2 separate regions of the Homo sapiens genome follow, and region 2 is linked to region 1. Evidence: fine-mapped expression QTL. A gene starts in region 1. The other region holds a variant in brackets. All regions are shown on one strand. Distances are from middle to middle. Region 1 holds the start of RB1CC1 (RB1 inducible coiled-coil 1). Region 2 has its middle 44 kb from the start of ALKAL1.

Region 1 (8,343 bases):
ACATACTCATTAAAATCTATCCAACTTATCAAGTGGAGATTTACAATTTTCTCGAGAGATTATCATGATGATAAAGTCAATTATCCCAGCCTTACTGTCAACTATTCTAATACAGTCAAAACTTAGAATTAGGCCAGACACAGTGGCTCCTGCCTGTAATCCCAGCACTTTGGGAGGCCGAGGTGGGTGGCTCACTTCAGGCCAGGAGTTCAAGACCAGCCTGGGAAACATGGTGAAACCCCGTCTCTACTAAGAATACAAGAATTAGTTGGCAGTGGTAGTGCATGCCTGTAATCCCACCTACTGGGAGGCTGAAGTGGGAGGATCATCTGAGCCCACGAGGCAGTGGTTGTAGTGAGCCTAGATCACACCATTGCCTGTCGCCTGCCTGGGCGACAAAGTAAGACTCTGCCTTAAAAAACAAAAACAAACAAACAAAACAGAATTCGCTTCCTTATATGATAAGGTGAAAGGGGGACACCCCAATGACAATCTCTGACCTTCAAAACTGGACACATTCATTATTCATCCACTATTTTGGGGGCATCTAAACATAAGCCAGACACTGCTAGGTGCCTGGAATACAAATATCTTCAAGATGCTTTCCAGCTGAATAGAACACATGAGACTCAGATAACCCTAAAGTGGACTAAAAGCTTCAGAGAAAAGATGATTGGAAATAATTTTGCCTGATCTCTAATTCTGTAAACTGCAATTATTAGCAATTCTCCCTCATTGAGGGGTCACGGGCTACTGCATCAATGGAGATAATGTCCACCACAAACGGAGTGTCTAGGTTGCCCAGGGACTGAAAACTGGGCATCAGTCTCCCCAAATCAGATGTATTCTAATCTGATCCTACCCCTTCTCTGCCAAGAAAAAGAATGAAAGATGAGTAGGTCAGGCATTTTCCTCACATTTCCCTGAAAGAAAACCTTTTTCATAAAAGTTCAGACTTCCTAAATATACGCCTTGTCTACAAACTAGACAAGCAACTTCGCCAAAAGAATGAAGCGAGCATTTAGAAAGGTAGTGCCCAAAGACAGCAAATGAGGTAAAAATAGCAGAACAGGAATACTTTTAAAACAAAAATGAAAAATACTTTGGAGTACACCCTTCAGGTTTTTTTCCCTAGGTGTACAGGAAATATGTGTATATTCAGGCAATATGGTTTTATAAAAATGAGGTGACACCCTACATACTACTATGGACTTTGCTTGAACTGCATAAAATAACAGAAATCTTTCTGTATCAGTACATATAAATGCATTACACATTTTGGTGTCCCTATCGTTTATAAAAACTACATAAAATGCATGATTTTAGTGAAAATTTTCTAGTTGTGTTTTATTTTATAACGGAAACTAACAGTAAAACCAAAATTATCTATATAGCAAATATAGAATTATATAAGACAGGGAAAATGGGGAAAAAAAAGAAAATGTAGAATTAGCTGCATTCTATTAAACCAAGATTATCTATAAACATATAACCAAATTATTAAACCAGCCTGCCCAAATCTGGTATTTGCAGTAAAACAATTACTAAAAGCCGTTATATTACTGTAATATAATATGGTATTGAATTAATATTTCAACAGGTATGCTGGACAGTTACTGAACAAGTATAATGTGTGGAATGTGAAGGAAAAATGAGTGGACAGTCTCAAATCAGTGACAAAAAAAGGAAATGGAACACAATTATTTTTATCTCCTAGCACAATTACAAGCCAATAAAATATGAGAGTTCAAAAGAGCAAACTAACGGGTAGAAAAAAATCATGGATGAAAAAAAATGGGCGAGGATTGTTATTCCACAATCCTCAAAGCACTCACTAAACAGCCATGAAAGCAGAAACAAATTAGCCAAGGAAAGAGGGTACTTGGAGGCATTCAAGTACTGCACTTACAAAAAGTAATCCAACAGAACCGGAACTTTACAAAGGGATAGAAAGAAATGCCATCCTCTCAGGACCCTAAACAATGGGGGTACAGTTTACAGTCAAATTAAGTTGATTTGGTCCATAATAAATAATCAGAGACAAGTAATCTTCACATCCTTTTATCTATGTGAGTTAAGCAAAAACTCATCAACCTAGCACTATACAATCGGCTTAGCTAGCCTTTTATCTACTCTACATCCTCAAAGTAATCTGCGTTTGTCATTTACCTCCATGAAAATTTCCAGTGGTTACCCATTTCCTATAAATAAATATATATACATAGACAGATATGTCTTTCTTGTTCACTGTTGCATTGCTGAAGCTAAAAGAGTATGCTGCAGGGGTTCAATTAGCATTTCAGGAATAAATGAAGTGAATTTGGCTTCAACTGCTTTCCAGCCATGCTGGGTTTACTTGAATTCATCTGTAGACCTTTGTGAGTTAGAGCACATTAGTTTCCTTACTATGACTTCCAAACCTGAATATGTAGAGCCCCACAATCTACCATTACTATCGCCTCTCTCATACCAGTCCAGCTTCAGTAACTTCATTTTTCTTGGTATATGCCATGTATATCAGAGCCTTTCCATTTACTGTTTCTTCTGCCAAAAATTCCTTTCGAGAGTCACACACTTACACCCCTTACTTCTCTTGGGCCTTTATTCAAAAGGCAATCAGTGGCCGGGCTTTGGGAGTCCGAGGCAGGCAGATCACCTGAGGTCAGGAGTTCAAGACCAGCCTGGCCAACATGGTAAAACCCCGTCTCTACTCAAGAACAATTACTTAAACATTTTTATGTTCCTCATGTAACTAGTTCAAAAACCTCACAGTGGTAAAAAGATAATAAAAGAATCGTGAAAGTGTGTTGAAAGGGACTGCTAGATTTTCAAAGTGTCTTAGGCCAGTATTACTACAAAAGAAAAGTGTAACTGGAGTCAGAAAATATCATTACCTGAATGAGAAAATTTTATCAGCCATTCTTTTAAAAAGATATTCATAAGACATACACATCTGCAAAGTAAAGCATGTAGGTGCTCAAATATCTGCTGAATGTATGATATAAAATTTTAAGTTAATATTAGAGTCTAAAAACTTTTCTCAGGCTAACATAATCAAAATTTAGGTTCAAAATTTCGAAAACAAAAGTCTTGTGTCTTCTGCCTTTATGAACTTGATTTGCTAAAGTAAATCTGCCATGCATCCTGATCTTGTGTTTGGCAGCAAGAGCCAAAAAAAAAAAAAAAAAAAACTCAGGGACAAAAGTACCGCTTCATTGTCTTCCCTGTCGTCCAATAACAAACATATAAAGGATTAGGTACATAAATAATCATATCTTGATTACCATAAAAAGTTCAAAATAGACTAAATAAAATTACTTTAAAAATATGAACTATGTCAATATCCACTTTCCATCAACAGAGGTTTCTCAACGTAAGCATTATGTGCCTAAAGCATCCCTGACATAAAACTTTATCCAGGTTTTGAACACAATCACAAACATTAAAAGACATGACAGGAATGTTATTGAGAAAATATCTTCATTAGGGCCATATTCTGTTACAACAAATATAAAAAGCGAACATATTTTCACATTCCTAGCAATGGTCTGCTTATAAATCCAATAATCCAAAAACTAAAATCAGCCACCTCCCTCAGTAGTTCCTTGGTTTCTCACAGTTTTATCTGATCAGAAGTGGAAGGACCCTCTTTTTATCGTCTATCACAATGTAATAACATTCTTGATTAAACACACAATTAAGTCTACTTAAGTCTCTTCCTAAATTGCTAACTGTCCAAACTTATGTATAAATCATACAAGCTTCACCAAAACACAAAAACTTAAGAAACTACACAATAAAATAGTTAGCAAATAGGTACACTTTAAATGTTTGCAGCAGACTTGAGAACATTCCCATCTGGCTGAATGTCTCGTAGTAACGTGACTCTTTATCAACAGTGAGCACATGAGTCTTCCTTGGCAGCCAAGTCTACACTACTTCAAGGTATGACCACACTTTAAAGAGTCATGATGGAAACGACTAGATTACGAAACCATAAACAGTAAACACAGCACATCCACCAGGCGGTGGAAGAAACTATAGAGATATTCCATTCAGAAGCTGCTATTTCTACTGTTGGTTAATGTATTTTTGTTTCTACCAAGGAAGCTGTGAAATCCGCGTGCACACCCATCCCAAATCTATCCGTGGGGCGGGCGCAGGCTGAGTCATTCCTAGGAGTAACTTTATACCGATCCTCGCACTCTGGGGTCGGGACAAAGACATCATCTCTCCGTTCCTCCCATTCGGTGAGCTTCGTTCGGCCTCGGCCAAACTCCACTCTCCCGTTTCTCGAGTCCAACACAGAATTAAGGGCTGATCCCTGGCAGCGATGAGCACAAGTCAAGATGCGTCTTGGGAGGTTCGGACGTCCCTCGCCCTCGGCCACTCCGGCAACTAGGCCGGGTACTAAGCGGCAGCGCAGAGGGAGGGATCCCAAGGCTCCGGCCGAGGAAGCCGCAGGCAGCCCCGCAGCACGAGTCCGACCCACACCTCCGGCAGCCTAGTGGAGCATCGACTCGAACCGCTTTTGTCTCCACAGGGGCTGTCGCGCCGGGAAAGCGGCCAGTGGGCAACACCTGCCGGGGCGGGAGGCGCCGGGGCCCTCCCGTGCACACACCTGCGCGTGGGCCGGGCTCAGGCCGACCGGAACCCTGGACCATGCGACCCCGGCCCACCGTGCCAGGGCCCGCCGCGCGACCGCTGTGCCAGATGGGGGAAGGGGACGCGGGCGGCGGCGACACTTACCCGGCAACGCCTCCTCCTTCGCCGGCGGCAGCAGCAGAGCCAGCGACCCCCGGCACCATCTTCCGCCGCCGCCTAGTCCTCGGCAGCGGTTACCAACCGCCCATTCGGCACCGCTAAGCCGACACAACCGCCGGCGTCCCGGGCGCCCGCCCGCCGCGGCCCCGAACTCTAGGAGGCAGGGAGGGGTCCGGGCGGACAAGGACGCGAGCAGGCCCCTCGGCTCTGGGTCTGGGGCCGGGGGACAGAAGGCCGCGGCCTGTCAGAGCCGAGGGGCCCAGGCGACTGGGGGATTCTGAGGCAACGCCGAGGGCTCGGCAGGGCCGCGGACACCGCCGCGGCTTGGTTTGTTATTGTCGACTCCGTCTCTTCCTCCGCGGCGCATGCCGGGAAACGGCCTGCCGGGGGAGGGGCGCGCCTGGAGGCGCAGAGAGGCGTCTACGCAGGTCCGGAAGTCGGCAGCCTGCCGGGAAGGGGGCGGCCCCGCCTCCGGCTCTCCGGCCGGCAGGTTGGCTGTCCTGGCCTGACCCTGGGAGACTCCGCTGGGGCCGCCTGTTATGGTGCTAGCTGCCGTCCCGGTGCGTACTTTCCCAAGGTGAATTTGACCTTCTTTGCGACAGCTAGGCCCTGACTAAGGTCGACCCACCAAACACTGGATCGTCCCCAGGCGAAAGAGAGCTTGTTCCCCTCAGCCTGTCGCGGAGGAGCGGAGCCAATCGAGGGTCTGGTGTCCCCGTCGCCTCTCCAGGGGCAACCTGCGGACTAGGCCAAGGTCTGTAACAGGATAACGTACCAGCGCCTGGCCCAGGCGTTCCTGCCGCCACCTCCCCGCATATCCGGACCGCCGGGACTGCACGCAGCTGGCAAGCGTCCCCCTGTTAACTCTGCAAGGGTGGGGCGGCACCATTTCTCAGACCAGGTAAGGCAAGAAAACATGCAAGAGAGAAGAGAGGGAAGCCTAGGCCAATCGGAATGAAAATGTAAACGCCACAACCACGTTTTCAGCTTTACAAATACTGAATCTTGTAGTGGGTCTAGTGGGTTAGGGGTTAGCATGAGCACCCTAATGGTTGGGAGACAGTTTCAGGGGACTCTTGCATTTGTGAAGATGATCAGTCACAGGCAATGACTTGAAGCCACGAGGCTTGAATATTAAAATCTGATGAGCAGATGTTACACGTAGAATAATTACATAATAGTTCTCAAATTCCTGTTATATCCAGGAATATCTGGTATGAGTGAAAACTTGGAGGTGCCTTCTCTAAAGTCATCAGGAATTCTGAGTTGTGTTTGTAAAAATAGGAGGCACAAGAGGGCACCAAACTGAACAAAATGTTAGGTGGAAACTGAAAAACGTTGGTTAGCATGAACAATTTCAGTTTTCAGTCACACTGACCAGTATCTGTAAGTTAGGATTGAGATGGGCTTGTTTTATTTATTTACTTTTAAATTTGTGCTGCTACATATCCCAAACAAATGTGGTCTTTATCATCACTGGCAAGCCATTTTACTTATTGGTTAAGCTGGAATTTTATTACACCACCCCAGCAAGATAGAGGAGAAAAGCGAAAATTAAGTAGTAAATGGTTATTATGCCTTAAGGGAAGGTGTGAACTGGCAAGACAAAAGAGCCAAATTTAGTAGTAAAGCATAGTCATCAGCACACAGAAAATAAGTGGTGAGGAGGAGTTTGGCCAGAAAATTGGCTAAGAAAAATGGCAGTATGACCAAGAATGAAAAGAAAAAGAAAGAAAAGAAAAACTGCAGTATGAGGCCTGTAAAGAACGTATTGGTACTTGCACTTCCTCTTATTAGTGACATTCATTATTACAAATATAACCCAATTTAGAATGTAAAAATCTTGCTGGAGCTCGGTGCAGTGGCTCACACCTGGAATCCCAGCACTTATGGGAGGCCGAGGCAGGAGGATTGCTTGAGCCCAGGAGTTGGAGACCAGCCTGGGCAACGTAGTGAAACCCCTTCTCTACAAAAAATACAAAAATTAGCTGGGCGTGGTGATGCACACCTGTGGTCCCAGTTACTCAGAAGGCTGAGGTGGGAGAATCAGTTGAGCCCAGGAGGTCGAGGCTGCAGTGAACCATCATGGCACCACTGCACTCCTAGCCTGGACAACAGATTGTTGCCCTGTCTGAAAAATAAAAAAAAATTTCTGAACTATGCCAGTGATAATCTGGTAAATTATAAATGTTGTCTGACTTTTTTCTTTGGAAAATGAATTAATTCAGTCCTAACCTTCTCTCTTAATCACAGGTTGCAATAAATTACCAGAAACGACTGGTTCATACCTTATACACCTCCAGTGTAAATGTTAAGAGTTTGTATATTCTTAACAGACTCTTAACAAACATCAGTAATTCTTTCCTAGGGATAAGTGAAAATGTACTAACATTAATTCTATTATATATATGCAAATATCTAGAGGAAATACTGTTTATAAGTTACTAATACATGTATCCATGGTAGTAGGTCTTGAAAAGTTACTTTTGTTGCCTATTGGACACCCTCTATTCTCCCTTCCTTAATAAAACAAAAAAAAGAACAAACAAAATTCTGTAGCATCACTTCTCAACCAAGCTTTCTGATAGGAAGTCCTCAGTCCAATCTCATTTTTGGCCTACTGTGCATTTCTTACTTAACTTGCAAACAGATCATTAACAAGGACCTCCAAATTACAGTAAATTACAGTACTAAGATTTTACTTGAACTTTCTAAAGCATTCGCCATTTTAAATTATTTAACTTTTATACTCCTCCTTCCCTTTTGTGCTGTTTCCTTCCTGGCGCTCCTAAATATCTGTCCATTCTTTGGACCTCTTCCAAATTTTCAGATAATTATAATAGTGTGCGAATGATGCAAAGGTAATGTGCCGTGGGAGAGAACAGAAGAGAGAAACCTAATTCTGGCCTCATCACATTATTGTTTTTTTAAATTTAATAACTATTTTAGATGCTTCAGTAGATTTACAGTGAGGGCAAAAGAAAACAGTTTTCTTTAGGAGTATGGAGGGATTATATAGGATGTACAATAAATACCCTAAGTACTTCAAATCAGTTCAGATCTTTAAAATCCTATTTTTCCTTCAGTTCTCAACTTCAATATCACCTACTCTGGGAGTCATTCCCTACCATGCTTGTTTGTTTGTTTGTTTGTTTGTTTGTTTGTTTTGAGACAGAGTCTCACTCTGTTGCCCAAGCTGGAGTGCAGTGACACCATCTCTGCTCACCGCAGCCTCTACCTCCCAGGTTCAAACGATTCTCTTGTCTCAGCCTCCCTAGTAACTGGGATTACAGGCACTTGCCACCACTCCCGGCTACTTTTCATACTTTTATTAGATGGGGTTTCACCGTGTTGGCCAGGCTGGTCTCGAACTCCTGATCTCAAGTGATCCACCCGCTTCAGCCTCCCCCACAGTGCTGGGATTACAGGAGTGAGCCACAGCACCTGGCCACATGCTTGTAATTTCTTTAGATTCTCACATTGTATCTTTCAGTGTCATCTAACATGCTGACTATAAGCTCCTTTTTAAAAGATGTACTGTACCTGGTATATAATGGTATGCACTCAACAAACATTTGA
Region 2 (8,343 bases), 100 kb before region 1:
TTGTCTCTACTAAAAATACAAAAATTGGCCAAGGGTGGTGGTGGGTGCCTGTAATCCCAGCTATTTGGGAGGTTGAGGCATGATAATCGCTTCAACCCTGGAGGGAGAGGTTGCAGTGAGCCGATATCATACCACTGCACTCCAGCCTGGGCAACCAAGCAAGACCCTGTCTCAAAAAAAAAAAAAAAATTGAATTTTTCCCAGAAGACAAAAGCCACTCAGAAGTAGGTGGGATTAAACTATTAAGGTGACTTTGAGAGTAGTCTGTGATTTTGACCAATGAGCAACACAATTTTTGGTTTCTGCTTTCTCTTTTGATACATTCTCTTCTAAAGTTAAAGAAAACAGGTTCCAACTCAAAATTTCGTGGCATCTTTTGAGATAATTTGACCTATTTATCTATTGATTGTAGTGATTTTCTTGTTCATTTGTGTTTATTTTTAATTGTATAAAATAGTAAGCCTTTCTCATATTTGTAGAAATAATATTTCTTTGTGCAATGTTGGGCATTTCATTTTCATTATGGTATGTACTAAAGAGAATTTTTCATTTGTGTGTGGAAATATCCACCTGTTTTTAATTTACAGTATTTAATCCTAGAATTCTTGTTTTTTAATGTTGTCTGCAATTTGTAGCTTCAGTTCATCTGGATATTATTTTGGGGTATTGATGTGATGAGGAGCTAAATTGATTTTTTTTTTTTTAGAAGCAATGCAGTTGTCTCCCTTGACTAATTTTATAAGGTGTGCTGATTTGGCTAAGTTGGTCTCATTCCTCTGATGCTTTATGAAAAGGATTCAGTGGACTCAGCTTCCCCCCTCTTTTAATGGTCTTGCAGTCTAAAATGATGGTTTCAGCCCCTAGGCAGAGACAGCTGCGGACCTGTTGTCACGGGAAGAAGTGAATGCCCTGATGGTGGTGTGCACTGAATAATGCTTCAGGGGTTCTACCAGGCAGATTGGCAGGGGCTGGCTTTAAAAACTCAAAATAAATCATCCTGTTATCATCCTTTCACCATCCACAAAGATAAAACTGCCTTTCTCTTTTTCATGCAAATACCTCCTAGGCTATAAGCTACATCATTTAATTTTTTAAAAGGGTGGATCATTTGTTCTGAGCACTGAATCTTTTCTCGGGGTGCTGTTAATGATTGCAGCAATGTACATATTTTTAAAATGTCACCTTTGCAAAGTGTCATATTTTCCCCATTTCCTTTCTTTGAATTCCCCTTTTCTACCATATTTATCCTGTGAGTAGACAAAGACAAAGGGTTCTGTTGTCTGAAACTGCATCAGGATAGATTTAGGCTAGACACAAAGAATGTTTCCAAAATAAAATACACTTGTTTTGGGCACCTTTGCCAGCTGCTGCTCTTACCTTCCTGGACTCATAGCTTAATGCGACAGGCATAAAGACAGGATGCTGAATTCTAGACAAACACATGCAAAGTCAGACAGTAAGTAAAAAAAAAAAAAAAAAAAAAAAAATTCTAAGGCAGCTTCAGGTTTAGCAAATACCTTAAAGTAGTGGTCCAATCTGATGCTTAACACGTTTGATTTTGGGAAACTAAAGGGAAGGTAGTGGCCACTTTGGAATGAGAAGAGTCAAAATCAACTGGGGTAGAGGATTGGGGCTACAGCCTCTCAACTCTATACCCCTTTCCTTTCATAGTAGATACTTAAAAGTAAATCTGTTGTGAATAAAATAGATTTTACATCTGGGTTAAAGGGAGAATAATACCGCTTGTTGTCAAAAATGGGAAGTGAGGAGTAGGAGTTTGAGACAAGGTAATTTCTATTTGTCTGTAATAGTTGAATTCCTGAAAAATTAATAAAGTTCATGGTCCTGACCCTGGGCTAGTTCATTAACCTCTCTACACTTCAGTGTCCTTATAAATAAAACACACACACACACACACGCACAGATAGAGAGAGAGAGAGAGAGAGAGAGAGAGAGAGAGAGAGAGAGATTGATTTTATTTCCAGGTTGAAAAACATGGTTAATCTAGGTCCTGACTATAAGAATTAAAGAAAGAGGAAACAAACACAAAGGATGGCTTGCCAGTCAAGATGGGCTTATTTTAGAGAAAACAAACCTGAGAGGGGTGTCTGGCAGAGTTAGGTCAGAGAGTTTTTAAGGATTCAGGGTAGAGAGTTTATCAGACACTTGGACTGTTTCTGTATCTCTTTGTGGTGCTTATCTGGGAGGGAGAGTTGTGTGTCTGTTCCCATTCATCTTTCCGCAGCTGCAGGCATATCCCCTGAGTCTGCTTTTAGCTTCCCTATTTCAGTGCACCTGAAGGGAAAGGAATGTGCTTATTAAGGCCCACTGTTTTACTGGGGCCCATTGTATGAGGGTGAAGTTTGGCAGTTACCCAAAAGACTTTACCCTCACCTCCCTCTGTGCCCAAGCTGTCTTATCTGTGTTTTACTGCCTGCTCTTTCTGGCTGCTTGTAGTTAGAAGAGAAGTGATTACCTTAAAATACATGATGCTAGAAAGGGAGCTGGAACTTAAAGTGATGGTGTTTGTCCAAGATGATGGTGCTCTTGCTCGGTCACTGACTCAACTCAATTTTTGAAATTCTAGGAAAGAAATAGGTGGTTAAGATAATTTGGAGCTAAAATTCTGAACAATGCTAATCTGAACAGTGTCAACAGAAACAAAAGGGACTTAGGAGCTTGCTAAGACTTCATTTAAGGGAAAGCATGGAATGGATAGAAATAAATGAAGCCATAGACACTTATGGGAAAATAAAGCATATACATACATACATATATATATATATATATATATATATATATATATGCATATATATGTATGTATTGAGACCCATATATGTATATGTAAGAAAATATAAAGCATACATATATGCATATATATGTATGTATCGAGACCCATATATATATGTGAGAATATATAAATCAACCATTTTAGTTCTTTTTAAAAAAGGAATGAGGTGGAACACACATATGAAGTCTGTGAATACGCACAGTTAACCCTACTCTGATGAAAATGTACATTATATCTGGCATCTAAAAAATCCCTCTCATGCCCCTTCCTAAAAAATGGACTTATGTCATCACAGTTCATTTGTCTGTACTTGAACTTCATATAAATGAAGTAATTCAATATGTAATCATTTGTATCTGTTATCTTTAACTCATTATTATGTCTGTGAAATTACTTCATGTCATGTGTACCAACAGTTCATTCATTCACTTAAAGACAGGGTTGCTATGTTGCCCAGACTGGCCTCATACTCCTGGTCCTAAGGGATCTTCCCACCTCAGTCTCCTGAGTAGCTGGGACTACAGGCATGCACCACCACACCCAGCAATAATTCATTCTTTTAAACTGCTACATAATACTCTGCTGTGTGAGTATACCACAATAGATTTATGCATTCTTTTATTGAAAAGCATTTGGGTTGTTTCCAGGTTTTATCTACAAACATTATTTTACATGGCTTTTGGTGAACATATGTACTCATTACTTTTGGGTAAATATTTAAGTGAGATTGCCATGTCAGAGTGCAGGATTACATTTAGTTGTGAAACATACTGTCACATTTTTCAAATTACTTCCCATCTGTAGTATATGAGAATTCCAACTGCCTCCCAAGAATCTTTGCCAACAGTTGTTATTGTTGGTCTTTTGAATTTGAAGCATTCTAGTGGGTGTGCAGTGGTACCACATTGCAGTTTTTATTTGCATTGTCCTGATGACTAATGATGTTGAGCACTTATTAAAAATAGTCATTATAACTGGTCATTTGGTATCCTCTTTTATGAAGAATCCATTCAACACCCAGTTTTGCCCATTTCTAAAATTCACCTATTTGTCTTTTTCTTATTGATTCATGGGAGTTATTTATATGTTCTGGATACTAATCTTTTGTTGGATCCATATATTGCATATGTCTTGAGTCTAGGACTTGCCTTTTCACTCTCTTAATGGGGTCTTTTGATGAACAGAAGTTCTTAGTTTTCATCTAGTCCAATGTATCAATATTTTCTTTTATATTTTTAAAATTTTCCTGTTTAAGAATTTTTTTCTTCCCAGGGAAAAGAAGGTATTTGTCTATGTTTTCTTCCAAAAGTTTTATTGTTGTATCTTTCCCATTTAGTTCTGTGATCCATTCCAAATAAATTTTTGTGTCTTAAATAAACTTTGCGGATAGCATGCAGTCAAGGAGAAGGTTCATTTATTTTTCACCTAGCACCTTTTATCAAGAACACTTTTCTTTTCCTACTGAATTGCACTGGTGCCTTGGTAATAAATCAGGAGACCATATATATGTGGGTCTATTTCTGTACTCTGTTTTCCACTTTACTTTGTGAGCACAAATGAGGATGGATTTAAAGTACTGGATAGTAGTTTCCCAAAATGCTATTTTTAGATTGCGACATGAATTGTTTTGTCTTGATAGAGTTCTTTTGATTCTTTTCCCTGACTTACTTTCCATCTCTTTATAAGGAAAAAGATAGCAGTGAGCTCCAGAACATGCACTGACAGTGGCAACCCTAGAATTTTTTTCCATCAATTCTGTTGTATTTTTCTTATACAGTTTAATAATATAAAATTTAATATGTTGCTTAATCCAATACACAGAAAGGGAAGCGAAATTATACAAGTACTAAGAA[G/T]ACTTTATTTTGCATTTTCACAGTTCAAATTCATTTTCTATATTCATGACAGTATATACGAACATCTAGAAATATCCTACAAATGTTTTGAGATCTGAGAGAAATATCAGATACTGCTATAATCTAGAACTTTAACTTTTCCTATTTTTTAATGCATAAAGAAAAAATTACATCACTTTAATGTTAGCATTCAATTATAGTTATGCAATCTCTATTGCAATGACAATATTTAAAATTATCTTTTAATTAGGAGAGTACATTTTTGGCTCCTGCTTGTGAATGAAAACATGAGCTACAAGAAGAAATATTTATATACACTTTGGCTGTGATTTTTTATGAACTGATTCCATATATTCTTTATAAACTGACAAATAAAAAGAACTCTCCTGGCCAGGCGTGGTGGCTCACGCCTGTAATCCCAGCACTTTGGGAGGCCGAGGTGGGCAGATAACGAGGTCAGGAGATCGAGACCATCCTGGCTAACATGGTGAAACCCCATCTCTACTAAAAATACAAAAAATTAGCCAGGTGTGGTGGTGTGCGCCTGCAGTCCCAGCTACTCGGGAGACTGAGGCAGGAGAATCACTTGAACCCAGGAGGTGGAGGTTGCAGTGAGCCAAGATTGTGCCACTGCATTCCAGCCCGGGTGACAGAGCAAGACTGTTTCAAGAAAAAAGAAAAAAAAAAAAAAAAGAACTCTCCTGATTTAATTATTAATCAGTTTCCCTGATGCATCTGGTGTAACTAATATACCTAATTCAATTCTCTACAAGTACTTGGTCACTGAACTCTTAATGTCTTCTGAAAAGTTCTAATGTCCATCTCAGAATACACCTGGCTCCCATAAGGACAAATACATTAAGCAACAAGTGCAGCTTTAATTGTAAAATTATGGATTTCTCTTTTCCCTAGACTCACTCTTGCTTCCTTGAAATGTTAGATGAGACCTTATAAGGTTCCACCTAACAAACACTGATAGAGAGCAGCTGAGTAAATGACATCTATGTCAATAGTTTAGGCAAAGAAGGTTCTGCTAGGATAAACTGAAAGTAACTGGGCATTGTTCATTAGAAGCCAATTTGGGCTAATTATCACTGTGGAAAGTCTACGGTTTGTTGCATCCATGACATACGCAAAGTAAAGACCAAAAAGGAACCTCAGTTTTGCCTGAGATCTTTCTGTGAAGATCTTAGTTTTTAAGATAAGCCAAATACAGCTAAAGGAGATAGATGTGGAAGAAGTGACAAAGCTAATCACTTTCTCAGTTCAGTTATTTTTGAAGCATGTAAACTACCTCAAGAAATGTTGCTGGGCACGGTGGCTCACGCCTGTAATCCCAGCACTTTGGGAGGCCTAGGCAGGCAGATCACCTGAGGTTGGGAGTCGGAGACCAGCCTGACCAACATGGAGAAACCCTATCTCTACTAAAAATACAAAATTAGCCGGGCATAATGGTGCACGCCTGTAATCCCAGCTACTGGGGAGGCTGAGGCAGGAGAATCGCTTTAACCTGGGAGGCAGAGGTTGTGGTGAGCTGAGATCGCACCACTGCACTCTAGCCTGGGCAACAAGAGCAAAACTCCATCTCAACGAAAAAAAAAAGAAAAAAGAAAAGAAATGTTTATGAGGTTTATGAGGCACTTCTGTAACAATCCAAAAAGGGCTCATTTAAATTTTAAGAAGTAATCCTCACAGTTTAAAGAACTTCTCTCATTTGGAAAGAAAAAGATAAGTGTGTGCTTTAAGGTTAGTTCTGTAAAATCTTTAATTCCTATGGGGGAGAAAAACCTCTATATTTCATATATGTTGTGTTTTCCTTAACAACTAGTTTTAGAAAAAAGCAAAATTGAACTGTGAAAATAAAAAAGATTGTTCCCAGTGAATGATTTAAATTATTATTTTTAAAATTAATTTATTTATTTTTGAGATGGAGTCTCCCTCTGTCACCCAGGCTGGAGTGCAGTGGCGCAATCTCAGCTCACTGCAGCCTCTGCCTCCTGGGTACAAGCAATTTTCCTGCCTTAGCCTCCCAAGTAGCTGGGATTACAGGTGCCCACGACCATGCCCAGATAATTTTTGTATTTTTAGTAGAGATGGGGTTTCACCATGTTGGCCAGGCTGGTCTTGAACTCCTGACTTCAAGTGATTTGCCTGCCTCCACCTCCCAAAGTGCTGGGATTATAGACGTGAGCCACTGCGCCTGGAATGAATGATTTAAATTAAAACAAAGATTAAAGTATTTGAAAATATATTTGTTAAAATTATTTTCAAACACAAAATGTGGATACTAAATAATCTTTAGATGTTGCTAACCACCATTAATTTAATTTTACTTTTTTGAGATGGAGTCTTGCTCTGTCACCCAGGCTGGAGTGCAGTGGCATGATCTCAGCTCACTGCAGCCTCCACCTCCCAAGTTCGAGCAATTCTCCTGCCTCAGCCTCCCAAGTAGCTGGGATTACAGGCATGCAGCACCATATCGAGCTAATTTTTATATTTTTAGTAGAGATGGGGTTTCACCATGTTGGTCAGGCTGGTCTTGAACTCCTGACCTCAGGTGATCTGCCTGCCTCGGCATTCCAAAGTCCTGGGATTATGGGCATTAGCCACCACGCCCAGCCTAAACCACCATTAATTTTAGGATGAAAAGTTAAATATTTTATTTGTAAAAGCTTTTATTTGTTGTTTTTGTTTTGTTTTGAGACACGATCTCATTCTGTAGCCAAGGATGGAGTGCAGTGGTGTGATCGCTCACGGCTCACTGCGGCCTCCACCTCCTTGGCTTGAGCAATTTTCCCACCTCAAGTGATCCTCCCACCTCAGCCTACTGAGTAGCTTGGGATCACAGGCACATGCCACCATGCCTGTCTAATTTTTTGTTTTTGGTAGACATGGTGTTTATTTTGCCCAGGCTGGTCTCACACTCCTGGGCTCAAGCAATCCTCCTCCCTCAGCCTCCCAAAGTGCTGGGACTGCAGGCGCGAGCCACCACATCTGGCCCACTTTTCATTTTTAAAAGATAAATACAACCTTTATCCCAAAGAAAAACAGAGGGAAGAGAGTAGAAATGCATTTTAGTGCTTTCTTAAATACACAGGTGTCTTCTGCCATGTCTGAGCAACTTTTTATGGGATTTGGGGATGGGGTGAGATAGGGTGGAGAGCTTACACGCCTTTTTTTTTTTTGTAAAGAAAGATAACAGCAGTATTGACATCGAAGCCTAGGAAGGCACCCTGCAACTTCTCATCAGTGTTTTGAAAGTATGTGGAAGCTTTTTGAAATCTTTCTAGGAATATATAAATATTTCTACAGCACTTTTCAATATGCAAAAATACTTTTACTTAACTTCCTCTCATTGTGAACATCACAGTAAGTTGTGAAGATTATTTCTTATAGATAGGGAAATTAAAGCTAAAAAACTAAGTTGCATAGGCTAACCAGTAATTTCCTTTAGAATCGGGGTTTCAACCCAGGTCTATAAACCAAAAGTGTTCTGCACCTTGTCAGAATGTGACATTGTATCATACCTACAATTCTAGGCAGCAAGAGCTGCATAAAACACTGGAATTTTCTGGAGGAAAGTGGTTCTGGAGATGTCTAAGCTTAAAATATTTACCAAATAAATAATGACGGCTATGTTCGACTCAAGCATTTTTGAGGTTCAACTACTGACACCGATGATATGGACCTACTGATAAG

The links. PIP is the estimated chance that this variant, and not a neighbour inherited with it, causes the effect. A credible set is the group of variants that fine-mapping cannot tell apart.
Region 2: its variant is the best candidate, but not a certain one, in a credible set for the expression of RB1CC1 in whole blood (INTERVAL, PIP 0.80).

What each region holds. Positions count from the first base shown.
Region 1 is chr8:52,709,326-52,717,668 of GRCh38, forward strand. RB1CC1 (RB1 inducible coiled-coil 1) reads right to left here and starts at 5,110. Exons shown (of 24, transcript NM_014781.5): 1 at 4,750-5,110. RefSeq lists silencers at 4,565-5,034, 5,065-5,234 and enhancers at 5,295-5,604, 5,625-5,674.
Region 2 is chr8:52,605,325-52,613,667 of GRCh38, forward strand. No RefSeq gene overlaps it. Among named protein-coding and RNA genes, the nearest start is that of ALKAL1, 44 kb to the left of the region's middle. The variant G/T (reference allele first, on the strand shown) is at 4,645.